Linked DNA regions of Homo sapiens. The protein of the gene in region 1 purifies or fractionates together with the protein of each later gene. This does not show direct contact. Each region holds a gene or a part of one and is shown on either strand. Other genes may lie near its edges.

Region 1 (3,136 bases):
AAAAAAAACAAAGTTGAAGACATCACAATTCCTGGTTTTAAATTATATTACAAAGCTACGGTAATCAAAACAATATGGTATTGGCATAAAACCAGACACATACCAGTGAAATAAAATTGAGAGTCCAGAAACACATCGAAACACATATGGTCAAGTAACTTTTGACAATGGCATGAAGAAGACACAATAGGGACAGGAGAGTCTCTTCAATAAATGGTGGTGGGAATACTATTTCCATATGCAAAACAATAAAACTGGACCCTTCTCTTTTGGCATATACAAAACTTAACTCAAAATGGATAAAATACCTGAATAGAAGACCAGAAACAAGAGACTATGAAAATAATGGTAGAGTTCTATATGTTTTGAGCTACAAAGTATTCAAATTACAGCATTAGGGAGAAAAAACAAAGCACAAACCAATGTTTAATTTTTAAGTGGAGATTTCCTGGAGCAGAGCTGCAGGGCTGGGGCAAGGATGGAGGCTCATTACTCCTTTTACCCTTTGAATGGTCCTTGTGGGCAATTCAACATTTTCTAAAATTAAAAATAAAATAAAATTTCAGAGGGGGATTGTGGGCATGTCAATTGTTTCGATGTTTCTCAAAGTGGAGAGAAATACCTAGTACATATTTTAGTTGATACATTCAGATCACATGGGTTTCTTGAAATAAATCTTTTGGCTTTAGTTTTACTAACTCTTTACCTAGTATCCCACTGAGTTCTTTTCCCTTATAGGCTGATAAGGTCATTATCTTCTCCACACTGTGCCCCACAAGAGCCTATTCACCCCATAATCTCAAAGCCTCCTTCATGAGGGCAGAAATGCCCCCTGAATCCTGCAATGAATTAACTCTCTACTCTAGCGGGATCCAGCTCTGGCCTCAAGGTCTAGACCTCCAGAGAGTGGCCAGCCCCACCTTCAGAAAATAAGAGGCATTTGATTCCTGAAATTATTCATTGAAAGCACTGTTCTTTTCTTTTTTGAATATTAACAAGTAAATATTCCAGCAGATGGAAAACAGGACAATGTAACACTGTTCTTATCATCACTATCAGCTGGGACCAGAACAGACACTCAATAAACAGCCTCACACTACAATGAAGCTTGGAGAACAAAGGAGCATCAAAGGGACATGGAGGGCAAGGGTAGCTCTTCTGCTCCCCAATCACATGCACTCCCCGTCTCACCGCAACATCTGTCCCTGAGCCTTCTCCCAGCAGACCTATAAATCCAGGCTGGCTCCTCACTCCCCACACATCTGCTCCTGCTCTCTCTCCTCCAGCGACCCTAGCCATGAGAACCCTCACCATCCTCACTGCTGTTCTCCTCGTGGCCCTCCAGGCCAAGGCTGAGCCACTCCAAGCTGAGGATGATCCACTGCAGGCAAAAGCTTATGAGGCTGATGCCCAGGAGCAGCGTGGGGCAAATGACCAGGACTTTGCCGTCTCCTTTGCAGAGGATGCAAGCTCAAGTCTTAGAGCTTTGGGTAAGAGACACCAGCATTGCAGAGCTAGGAGTGTAGAGAGGAAAACCAAGCACTTCTAGAATTAGATCCAACAGCTGGCTCTTTCTCTTAGGTGATCACCTCCCCAGGCCTCAATTACTTTATGTTTGTACTGAAAAGGAAGAATCAGTGATATTCAAGGCATGACTTTTCTCTAAAGATTTTTTAATTCTATGATAAGTCTATGAAATTTTCTAATTTTTTGCCATGTAGAAATGTATTGAGGAGTCTCTACTTCAAGGAAGAGAGCCTAATTTTAAAGGAATGTTTTGTTTTGCTTTGTTTTGTTTTGTTTTGTTTGATGGAGTCTCGCTCTGTCACCCAGGCTGGAGTGCAGTGGCACTATCTCAGATCACTGCAACCTCTGCCTCCTGGGTTCACGCAATTCTCTCCCTCAGCCTCCCAAGTCACTAGGATTACAGGCACCAGACACCAAGCCTGGCTAAATTTTGTATTTTTTTTTTTTTCAGTAGAGACGGGGTTTCACCATCTTGGCCAGGCTAGTCTTGAACTCCTGACCTTGTGATAAACCCACCTTGGCCTCCCAAAGTGCTGGGATTACAGGCGTAAGCCACCACATCCAGCTGCTAAAGGAATGTTTTTTAATCTGACTTTTATAGGAACCGTTGCAAACTGGAGACAGTCATATGGGTGCATTCAGATGTGTGTGTGACAGGGAAGGAGCAGATAAGTACAGCATATCAGAATGGCTCTCTAATCCTGTGTGTGACCAACACTGCTCTGCGTATTTATTCCTATTGATGGTGTGATCATGCTATTGGCTGTAATGCAGCCAGCATTACATGTCAGCAAGCATGCAACTTCCTGAAGATTCTCTTTACTGCCCGCTGCTGACCCTGGTGCTCAATTTCTGATGCTCTCTCTCTCTGTCCCCAGGCTCAACAAGGGCTTTCACTTGCCATTGCAGAAGGTCCTGTTATTCAACAGAATATTCCTATGGGACCTGCACTGTCATGGGTATTAACCACAGATTCTGCTGCCTCTGAGGGATGAGAACAGAGAGAAATATATTCATAATTTACTTTATGACCTAGAAGGAAACTGTCGTGTGTCCTATACATTGCCATCAACTTTGTTTCCTCATCTCAAATAAAGTCCTTTCAGCAAGTTCTTTTGTGTTTGTGCTTTTCTGGTGTTTGATAATTCAGGATTCTTCAGATGCAAAAACAAAAACCCAAGTCGTATCTCAGAACACTAGCTCTTCGAAAGAGTTTTCTATGTAGACCAGAGAAGTGGTAGAGAGGATGTTGAGAGAAGAGAGGATTTGGGTTTTTTGTTTTTTTGTTTTTTGCTTTCTGAGATGGAGTCTCGCTCTGTTGCCCAGGCTGCAGTGCAGTGGCACAATCTTGGCTCACTGAAACCTCTACCTCCTGGGTTCAAGTGATTCTCCTGCCTCAGCCTCCCAAGTAGCTGGGATTACAGGTATCCACCACCACGCCAAGTAATTTTTGTATTTTTAGTAGAGACAGGGTTTCACTATGTTGACCAGGCTGGTCTCGAACTCCTGACCTCAAGTGATCCGCCCACCTCGGCCTCCCAAAGTGCTGGGATTACAGGCATGAGCCACCGCACGTGGCCTTAGGCACTCTGTTTTAATGTTAATGCTG
Region 2 (4,135 bases), on another chromosome or scaffold:
TACATATCAACTTCCTAATCCCACAACATTGGAAGGGAAATGAGATTGGAGAGAATTACAAAGGAAACTCCAACCATATTTGTCTTGATTTATTTCTTTTTTTGGGTTGGTGGATCTGGTAAAAACTGGAAAAGCTTCTAGACAAATTTTAAAAGAGCACTACCATTGCCATCTTTCATTTCTTAAGAAGAAATGACCTTAAACAAACTTGGCAAGTGTTTAATTTTATTAAAGTTGGGTGCATGTAAGGTACGAGTGTCTTTTATCTTGCTCTCTATATTTGTGAGTATATATATATATAACATTTCATAATTTAAAAGAAATTATTTCATTCTATGATAATGTGACAAAAGAAACAAAGATGTGAAATAAAAACTAATAGGAAGGAATCCACTTTCAGCAGTGTGGCCAGGAATTTGCTCTCCAAAGAAGGGATGATTAGGCTGAAATATGGAGAAAGAGAAAGAAAGTTGATTTAAAAAGTTTCAAGCAATACAGTATGTAAACAGACACCAATGTCTGCAGTCTAAGGATGGCATTAAATCTGCTGGTGGTTTATATGTGATCATCATTGTACTACAAGTTCTATGAGAGCATGGATACTGAATATCCTGTTCAATATTGTATTTTCATCACCAGAATAGCACTTAGCACACAGTATGGCTCAAAAAAAAAATCTCAGATAAAGTCAATGACATGGTTTAAGGGACTCAAACGTTAGAGTGCTCAGACAGTAACAAGGACAGATAGGATCAACTAAGAATCTGATCAGGTCAATGCTGTGAAATAGACAAGTGTGATCTTTGATAACTCCTTTCTAAAATCTCTTTGATCTTTTATCTCTTTTATCTTTCATTGATCCTCTACTCTTGAAATCCTTATTTTATATCACTTTCTTCCAGGACCATGTACTCAATCAACTGCTAAAAAAGAAAACCCAAAAACCCTAAAGTCTATAGTTATAACTCACTCAGTCCCAGAAATGAATCTGCAATGCATGAGCTACTATCATGGTAACATGTCCCTGACATTCTTTGTCAGCATCCTTTGTCACCTGCTTGTAAGGATTTTGAAAGAGATGGAGAAAGGTAGGTTGAAGGTTCCTTATCAGGAGGTTTGCTGTCAAAGCTCATTCTAAATGGAATACAAATTTTATCTTCCAGACATGCCTCAGTACCTATCAGAATTTAGCCTTGAGAAAAATGAGGCAACCACTGAGAGTAATGACCCTTTTAGGGAATCTGTGCTCAATTCTGAACTCTATTCAGAGGCCTTGGGGTGGGGCTTGTTTGTACATAGTGGCCACATAAAGCCTGGTAAACTCAGCTGGTCTCCAGGGCGAGGCTGAGGGCAGAGAGTTGGACACAACCCTGAGATTTATCCCTCACAATGCGGAAAGACAGACTTCTTCATTTATGTCTTGTGCTACTTCTTATCCTGCTTTCTGCCAGTGACTCAAACTCTACAGAACCGTAAGTCTCACTCAAGACCCCTTCCTCCAGAGTGCGTTTCAGTCTCTCCCTTGTGTCTTCGCTTTGCCTTCCTTTGTAAATGCCACCTTTCCACTCATTACAATACCTTCCAAATATAAGAAATTATTCCAGTTAATCCCTTGTTTGTCTTTCATTTATCCTCTATTCTTGAAATCATTTTTTCTACACTGGGCCAATCAGAGTCATAAATACGATTAGTCACTAGGAAGCATGATTAAATAAAACACTAGATCCCAACTTCACAGAACAGTTCTTTTGGATGGAAGGCACTGAATATAGAGATATTCGAAATATATAGTGAAGTGCAACTTAACATGTATTGTAGGCCATATATATATATACAGAAAGTATAGCTCCTTTATTTTTCAATCATGTATCAAGTCTTCACCAACAGCCCCCAGTGGGGGACCAAAGCAGGGAAAATAATTTTAACCCTATCCAGTTGTAAGTTGGTACAACTCAATAATTGTAAGACTTCTTTTCCACCTCTCCCCAGTTCCTCTCCTCTATAGTGTCTAGAGAACTGTGGTCTCCATTAACTCCTAATAGAGAAAACTGTCAGAGTCCTTGGTCTCAAAGTTCTCCGTCCTTCTTGGCTACTGTCAGTCTGACTTCTCCTTACTTGCTGGCATGCACTGTTGAAGTTTAGCCATCTGGTTTCTCTTGTGTGTTCAGGACCCAACAGTCCTCTCTAACTGACTGTCTCACTTCAGCTGTTTCATATCCCATAGAACTCCTACCTTTGCATCCTGCCTCAAATACTATGGCTATTGTTTCAACACAGCCTGTGATGCAGGGTCACCTTGCCCCTTTGCAGTCCAGGCCATTTAAGGTCCCTGGCCTTAACCCAGCTGCCTTTACATTTCTTCCAGAGAATGGTGAGAACTCTTGGGTCCAATAATAGCACATAGGCACTGAGGTGTCCTGGAGAGGTTAAACTTCTACCTCTCTCTTGCATACCCACACTGCACTTCTAGATGCCTATCGTGTCTCCTGTATTCCAGACTGATACAGGGAAGTCTTCAGAGTCCCAAATCGGGAAAGGGATAAGGGGTCCCTCTGCTCTGTGTGTTACCCTTATCCATCTAACACAAATAGCCTTCTTCAGGCCAAAGCGCAGAAAGCAGAAATAAGGAGTTCAATCCAGTAAGTCTCCTGCTTTCCTCAGGCTTTTTCCTTGCACAATTTCCTGGCAACCGGTAGGGGTACATTTCTCCCCCACTATCCCTCTACCTCATCTACAGCAGTGGGCTCTACTACTTCCAGCTGCTCTCCATCCAGAAAGCATATGGGAATATGTGGAGGCTATTTTGCTTTCTGAGAGCAGACTGAATGGATAAAGCGAGTAGCGTGTATTGGGTCAGAAACATTAAGCAATTTGTGGTTCTGGATGCATTCCTACACTACATTGGACCATGCTGCCATTGAAACCATCCTTTTACGTTGTGTCTGCCACTGAACAAAGAACAACAAGCCTCATGCCCTAGTTGTCACAAGCAGAAGGGGTGTTTTCTCCCTTTATAAGGAGAAAACTTAACTTCATCCCTCCAGAATTAACCCTTGATGTGATAAATGTGAGAGACTACAAAAGAGAACCAATAGCCATTCTCCCCTGCCTTGGGGCAGTAAGCTTCAGAAAGATGAAGGTTTCAGGGGAATAAAATGAAAAAGAGAAAATTAAAAGTTATCACTTTAATATTTGCTACATTTAGTCCCTGCTAAAGAGGCAAATATTTAAAATGCAAACATTCATGATTGAGTAAACATATATTAAAACATTTTAGCAGCTCACTACCAATGACATCTTGGGCAAGTTTGTCAACCTGGATTTGTTCTGATTTCAATATCTGTTAAAAAAATATTAACTGAACTCATATAAAATAGTTCTTTAGAATATCAAATATATGTGGAATTAATTTTTAATCGTGATATCTTTTAGGCTTATAATTTATAAGAATAAAAATAGTAAATAAATTATAAATATATATATACCTTCTTATTAAGATCAAAGAACTAAAGGAAAAATTTTTTGATGGGGATGTAAAAAATGATACATTTTTATTATTTATTATGCTGTTAAAAGAGCAGTGATCAGGAGATCAGAAGCATCCAGATACCAGAAAAAGATTAAGACATAAGAGACTAGCTGAATGACTATCAGTGAGTTACTGAACTGCCCTCAGCTTCTCTGCTAGAGAACAAAACCTTACTACTCATACAGTAAAATCATCTGAAACTTGGATGATTTCAGAGTGGCCCTGGAGATTCATGGCATATAGTTTTGCCCAGGAACACTTTAAAACACATGTAGCAAGACTGGTGTGCTGGAGCAGACTACATGGAGGATGAGGGGACCAAATTTGAGTTCCACATTCCACAACTCAATTATCCTTGGATTCTCTCCTCCTAGTCTCACACCTATTAATTTTGTAAAGCAACAATATTGGGTTTCTTGTGTCAAATTGCCTGTCCAGAAAACAATTTAAAAAGTAAGAGTTTATGTTGGCAATGGAAAGTAAGGGTAGTAAAATAATATAAGAAAATAATAGTTTTTACTTGCAAATTTACTCTATAAATGGCCTAACCCTGCAGATATTGAATCATGAATCACTGAATCATTAAAGCTTTGAAGAGTTACATTT
Region 3 (3,500 bases), on another chromosome or scaffold:
CCTCCTCCTCCCCCTCTTCCTCCCCCTCTTCCCCTTCATGGTCAATCACTTGGGTGAGATCTGTGGTTTCCAGCTTATCTGAGATGGAGCAATCCCTCTTCCCAAGCTGTCTCCCAGGACAGCCCAGCATGTGAAACACACAGGGGCCCTGCCTTGGAAGGGCCCCTCAACCCTGCTGCTCACATAGCTCACTGCGCTGGCCCCAGGTTCCAGGTCAGGGCAGCCCCTGACACCCACCCTCTAGCTGGCTGGCCCTTCCCTCCAGCGCATCCCGACTCCCCAGGCTGTGTGGCCTTGGCATACTCTTGCCCTCTTGGGCTGGGGCTTCCCTTTGGCGAAGGCAGCGAGGAGGGGCTGAGATGATGCTCCTGCCTGTGCCTGTCCACCTCCCCACCCGGCTCTGGGAGGGTCTGGACCAAGCCAAGCCAGAGGGGTTTTGGGTCCAGGCAGCCAAGCGAGAGGCCCAGGGTTTATCGAGGGTCCCCAGCCTACTGTTGGCAGGGCCCGGAGAGCAGTGGGCTGCTCTCAGCCTGGGAAGGTGGGTCAGGAGGAGTGGGGTTCTTCACAGGAAGGCACACTGGCAGTTCCTGGGGAGCTGCCTGCCATCTTTCTGGGCCCAGGCAGTGTCATGGTGGCGGCCCTCCCTGCCTCGGTTGGTTCAATGGGCATACCCATTTTTCAGATGAGGATGAAAAGGTCCTAAGGGGCCAGGACTCAAGTCCTGCCCTGGTGCGAGGAAGAAACAGGGGAGATGGTCTGGTCCTGCCCTCTGCCCAACACCAGCCTTCATGTTTAGCACGTGGCACTGACTTAAGGACCCCAGAGTGAGGATGGAGGGTGTGGCTCTCAGCCAGGTGGCCTCAGCCAATGCCCACCTTAGAGACTCCGCTTTAGAGTGGGAATAACAGGGTCCCTCCTATCCGAGCTGTGTTGGGTAGTCTAACAGGGCTGGTATACAGTAGGTGCTTAAATAGCAGCTGTTTGGAGCAGACCCCTGGTCCCGCGTCAGGAAGAGGACCTGACTTATTCATGCCGGGTGACATGGTGCTCCTACTCCCGTGGGCCTCGGCCTCCCAGCTGTTCATGGGGCCACTGGGCAGGCTAAGGACTGAGGGATGGGAGGCCTGGTGAGGACCGAGGGGCGGGGCGGGAGGCCTGGTGATGACCGAGGGGCGGGGCGGGAGGCCTGGTGAGGACCGAGGGGAGGGGCGGGAGGCCTGGTGAGGACCGAGGGGTGGGGCGGGAGGCCTGGTGAGGACCGAGGGGCGGGAGGCCCTGGTGAGGACCCAGGGGCAGAAGGTCTGGTGAGGACCAAGGGGCAGGAGGCCCTGGTGAGGACCCAGGGATGGGGCGGGAGACCTGGTGAGGACCGAGGGGCGGGAGACCTGGTGAGGACCGAGGGGCGGGGCGGGAGGCCTGGTGAGGACCCAGGGGCGGGAGGCCTGGTGAGGACCCAGGGGTGGGGCGGGAGGCCCTGGTGAGGACCGACGGGTGCGAGGCCTGGTGAGGACCAGGATGCTTGCTGGGGAGTCCCCAGGTTCCCACCCCATCCCCACCGCAGGGGCTTTGCCCCGCCACCTGGGCTGCACCCTCAGGGCTCCGGGTGGTTGCCGGCCTTCAGCTCTGGAGAGGGAGGTGACCAGTCTGGGGACCGCTTCGGACAACAGCGCAACCTCACGTCCTGGCCTGGCCTTGCTGTGACCCTTTGGCCAGTGGCTGTATCTGGGGCCTCTGTTTCTCTCTTGAAGGAGGAGCTTGATGAGAACACCTCCTTCCCGGCTGTTGTGTGGGGTGCAGGCTGGGAAGGGCTGTCCTAGGGACACGTCTGTGAGGGACTTTGCTGCCTCTGGAGCTGCCGGTTGCATTATTGATATTTTGCCAAAAGCCCTGAGGGTTGGACGTTAAGCAGAGTCCCGCTGGCCCTCCCCTCCTTCAGGCGTTAGGTTTTGAAGGGAGGAGGGACTCTGCCTGAGTGTGCCACGCCCTGGACTGGGCTGGCCTCACACCCCAGCCCCGGCTGTCCTCTTCTTGCCCGGAGATCTGACCCACTGCTAAGATCATCGTTGGCACTGGCCAACCCATTTTACAGGAGAGAAACGGAGGCCCTGGAGGCGTGACATGTGTGAGGTTATGTGACGTGGGAGCTGGGGCCGTGGACCCTGGGGGTGGGCCCAGGTTTCTCTGGGCACTGCCCACTCAGCACCCCCAGGCCACCAGCCCTACTGCATCGGCCGGCGGCCTCCCCATCTCCTCCTCCCTCCCCAGCTGCCTTGTGTTTTGGGGGAAGGCAGTGGTCCTGCTGAGGCAGGAATGTGGTGGCTGATCTTGGGCAGAGCCGCGTGAGCAGATAAGCAGGCCCCTCCCCTCAGCCTCCTGTGCCTCCGTCTGCTTCCCCAGCTTCCCCTGGGCTGCTGGCTGTGGTCTTGGGAGCCTCAGCTTCCCCGGCTGTGAAATGGGTGTTGGGGGCTGGTGGGCAGCTTCCGAGAGCTCAGGCCCTGACTCCCCTGGTTCCCTCAGTTCCCCACCTGGAGCTGAAGTGAGCCCGGCGTGCTGAGGGCTCCTGTCTGCTAAGTGCCTTACGGGCATCCCCGTTCTGCCCTTCTCCAGACACCACTTAGCTTTGGGTTCTCCACCCATTTCGCACGTGAGAAAATCGGGGGTCAGAGAGGGTGGGTGGCTGCGCTAGAGTCTCACAGCACACAGTGGTGCTCTGGCTGTGGAGGCAGCGGCAGGGCAGGGTGACCCTGCTGTGCCTAGGACCTGCATGGCTGCCTGTGCCTAGGACCTCCTGGACTGTCAGGGGTGTGGCTTCCTGAGAAGGAGAGGGCAGCCACCGCGGGCTTCCGGGTTGTTCCGGGAGCTTCCCTGTGGGCCGCCATGGTTGGAATCCTGGAGTGGAGAATCCTAGACCCTCTGTCATTATAGGGAGGTTACCTTGCTTCTCCAAGCCTCAGTCTCCATCTCTGCAAAGTGGGGGTATCGTAAGGCACCAGGCTGGGCTCCAGGGTTGCCCGGTCTTCGTGCAAGTCACTCAGCCACCCTGAGCCTCAGTTTCCCCACTATAAAATGGAGCAGTGATGCTCACCTCACGGGGCTGTGAGGAGCGATGCCACCCAACACGGGAGGTGCAGCCCGGGCCAGGGCCCCCTGTGGTCTGTAACAAAATCCACACAAACAGGGCAGGGGCCCCCCTCCCCTCCCCAGGTTGCTGACGTCCCTCAGGTGTCTCTGTCACGGCTGGCCTTGCGTGGGCCCACTCCTTCCCACTTCCTTCTGGGCACCTGCACCCATCACCGCCTCCTGCCCCAACTTCCCTTTTTTCCATCAAGCTCCCACTTCCCAAGTCAGACCCAGGGAGCAGGAGCGGAGGAGGCCCCAGGGCCAGGTGGTCGTGGCTCCTTCCCGAAGTGATGCATGAGGAAAGACCTGCTGGGTAGTCCTCCGGGGACAGGGGACAGGGCCTCACGGTTGATGGCGCATCTATCCTGGACATCCTCAGC
Region 4 (2,599 bases), on another chromosome or scaffold:
TTGTTTTCTTTCTTTCTTTTTTTTTTTTTTTGAGACAGAGTTTCACTCTTGTTGCCCAGGCTGGAGTGCAATGGTGTGATCTTAGCTCACCTCAACCTCCGCCTCCCAGGTTCAAGTGATTCTTCTGCCTCAGCCTCCCTAGTAGCTGGGATTACAGGCATGTACCACCACGCCCAGCTGATTTTGTATTTTTAGTAGAGATGGGGTTTCTCCGTGTTGGTCAGGCTGGTCTCGAACTCTCGACCTCAGGTGATCCGTCCGCCTCGGCCTCCCAAAGTGCTGGGATTACAGGCATGAGCCACCGCGCCCAGCCATTGTTTTGTTTTCTTTATGATAAATTCCTAGAACTATGACACGGTGAAAGTGTAGACTTACCAGTCTGGGTTAAATGTTTTAATTTCGGATAAGTGAGGCTTCCATATCTTTGGTTGTTTATATCTTTTTTTTTTCCTTTCTCTTTTTTTAGTTATTTTTATTTTTTTGAGACAGAGTCTCACTCCGTTGCCCAGGCTAGAGTGCAGTGGCATGACCTTTGCTCTTTGCAACCTCTGCCTCCTGGGCTCAAGCACGATCCTCCTGCCTCAGCCTCCCAAATTGCTGGGATTACAGGTGTGTGCTACCACGCCCAGCTAATTTTTGTATTTTTTTGCAGAGACGGGGTTTCGTAATGGTGGCCATGCTGGTCTCAAACTTCTGGGCTCAAGAGATCCGCCCACCTCTGCCTCCTAGAGTGCTGGGATTACAGGCGTGAGCTGTCACACCTGGCCTTATATTTATTCTTATGTAGGTTCATCCCGTTGCTTGCTTTCTGGTGTATCTTCTCAACTGGTCAGTCCCAGGATCTGAGAGACGGCTGAGTTTGCATCCTCCGCTCTTTGTTTTGAAGCAGCCCTCTCGGAACCTGGTCACTATAGCCTGTGGGGGGTACTCTCAGGAGCCCCCCCCCCCCTGGGCACAACTGGAGGCCCTGAAAGGACACTGCGGGTGCCCTGTCTTGCTGGCCTGGCCCCCTGGGGGTCTCCTGTAGCTGGAGCAGAAAGAAGAGCTCTAGGAAGGGATTGTGTGGCTTCTAGAGGACCCAGGCCACTGGCCTATGCCAGGCACCCGGAGGAAGCGGAAAAGCAGCCCTTCTAAATGCATTCCGTCTGCTTCAGTGGCACAGCTGTCCCAAGCCCAAATATGGGAGCTTTCCTCCACTTTCTCCCCAAGGAGTCCCTCAGGCTGGAGGGAAAGTCGCTGCTTGGGAAGCAGGAATCCCAGCACCTTGTAGCGAGAGTGTAGGGCAGGATCCAGCAGATATGCTGAGGGCGGCCTTAGGCAGTCATTCAAGGCCTTAGCTTCCCAGTGGTGAAAGAGGTTGGGTTGCAGGCCTCCTGAGCTCCTTCCATTCTGTCGTCCATGTTCTCCCCTTGTCCGGCCCTGCGGGACACCCAGCCCGTCCGGGATTTCCTTGCTGTGGGGCTGCCGGAGGCTACATGAAGGGCAGTGGTCAGGGCCCACTAAGGGGCTCCCTGAGCTGGTGCCAGCCGCCGGCTTCTCTGATAGCAGCATTGCTCGTTTCCTCGTGTGTCCCTCTCTTGTGGAATAAGTGCTAGTGTCCAGCCAGGTTTCTAACTTCCCGCTGAGCTCCTGGGATGTGGTGGCTGGAATTCTGCAGTGTACAAAACAGCACCTAGAATTTGGCGGGGATAGGAACGGGTTCTTAGGAAGCTTCCATCAGCCCCCAGACGGCCTGGCATGGCTTACCCAGGAAGCAGGAGTTCCCAGCAGCCAAGTGGGTAACTGGGTCTGCCTGCTCCAACCTCAAGGGAGCTGTCTGCAGGCCCAGCTTCTACTCCTTTCCTGCCACACGCTCATGTGCTGCCCCTTCCCTTCCTGAGGGGACTCCAGCTCCCCTCCCTGGATGCTCATCCCCCAACCGCAACTCAAGGTCCTGTGTTGTCCCGCTCCCCCCGCCACACCCCTTTCCCTGTCCTGGGTCAGGCTGGGACAGACATGCTTCACCGTGCATAACTGGGGCAGGCGGCCTTCCCTGCGGTCTTGGCAGTCAGCATACTTGCCTTCCAGATGACTGGCCCACAGGGAGGAGGGAACGTGCCATTTTCTTGACCAGTCTCTGGGAACCCAGCTTTGGGGCTACTGCTCTGTGGGGCCTTCTGGCAAGTGCCAGGGTTTAGGCAACTTCCAGGCACTGGTGAGGATGATCTCAGATAGCTGCCGCCCACCTGACGTTATAGACCTCTGGACTTAGAGGCTTGTGATGGAGGGCATGGCACAGCAGGGGTGGGAAGGTCAAAACGGGAGCCTCAGCTGGGTCTCATCCATGGCTTCTCAGAAGAATCAGGACTGATGTTGGAGAGTCCTACCCCTTGGGGTCTACACGGACTTTGGGTTTTGTTTTGTTTTTTGTTTTTGTTTTTGTTGGAGACGGAGTTTTGTTCTTGTTGCCCAGGCGGGAGTGCAATGGCGCGATCTCAACTCACTGCAACCTCCGCCTCCCGGGTTCGAGCGATTCTCCTTGCCTCAGCCTCCCGAGTAGCTGGGATTACAGGCATGCACCACTACGCCCGGCTAATTTGTATTTTTAGTAGAGATGGGG

The links. The genes of interacting proteins can lie anywhere in the genome.
Region 2: the proteins of DEFA6 (region 1) and PZP purify together in Homo sapiens (affinity purification with mass spectrometry; 2 studies listed by BioGRID and IntAct, with this or other methods). This does not show direct contact.
Region 3: the proteins of DEFA6 (region 1) and ZFPM1 purify together in Homo sapiens (affinity purification with mass spectrometry; 2 studies listed by BioGRID and IntAct, with this or other methods). This does not show direct contact.
Region 4: the proteins of DEFA6 (region 1) and RBPMS2 purify together in Homo sapiens (affinity purification with mass spectrometry; 2 studies listed by BioGRID and IntAct, with this or other methods). This does not show direct contact.

The regions. Positions count from the first base shown.
Region 1 is NC_000008.11:6,924,197-6,927,332, reverse strand, and holds DEFA6 (defensin-6 preproprotein), read left to right. Parts: upstream 1-1,256; 5' UTR 1,257-1,297; coding exon 1,298-1,490; intron 1,491-2,405; coding exon 2,406-2,515; 3' UTR 2,516-2,636; downstream 2,637-3,136. UniProt on the Homo sapiens protein: Host-defense peptide that contributes to intestinal innate immunity and mediates homeostasis at mucosal surfaces by forming higher-order oligomers that capture bacteria and prevent microbial invasion of the epithelium.
Region 2 is NC_000012.12:9,205,596-9,209,730, reverse strand, and holds the start of PZP (pregnancy zone protein precursor), read left to right. Parts: upstream 1-1,335; 5' UTR 1,336-1,389; coding exon 1,390-1,472; intron 1,473-4,135. UniProt on the Homo sapiens protein: Is able to inhibit all four classes of proteinases by a unique 'trapping' mechanism. This protein has a peptide stretch, called the 'bait region' which contains specific cleavage sites for different proteinases.
Region 3 is NC_000016.10:88,459,780-88,463,279, forward strand, and holds part of ZFPM1 (zinc finger protein ZFPM1), read left to right. Parts: intron 1-3,500. UniProt on the Homo sapiens protein: Transcription regulator that plays an essential role in erythroid and megakaryocytic cell differentiation. Essential cofactor that acts via the formation of a heterodimer with transcription factors of the GATA family GATA1, GATA2 and GATA3.
Region 4 is NC_000015.10:64,741,991-64,744,589, reverse strand, and holds part of RBPMS2 (RNA-binding protein with multiple splicing 2), read left to right. Parts: intron 1-2,599.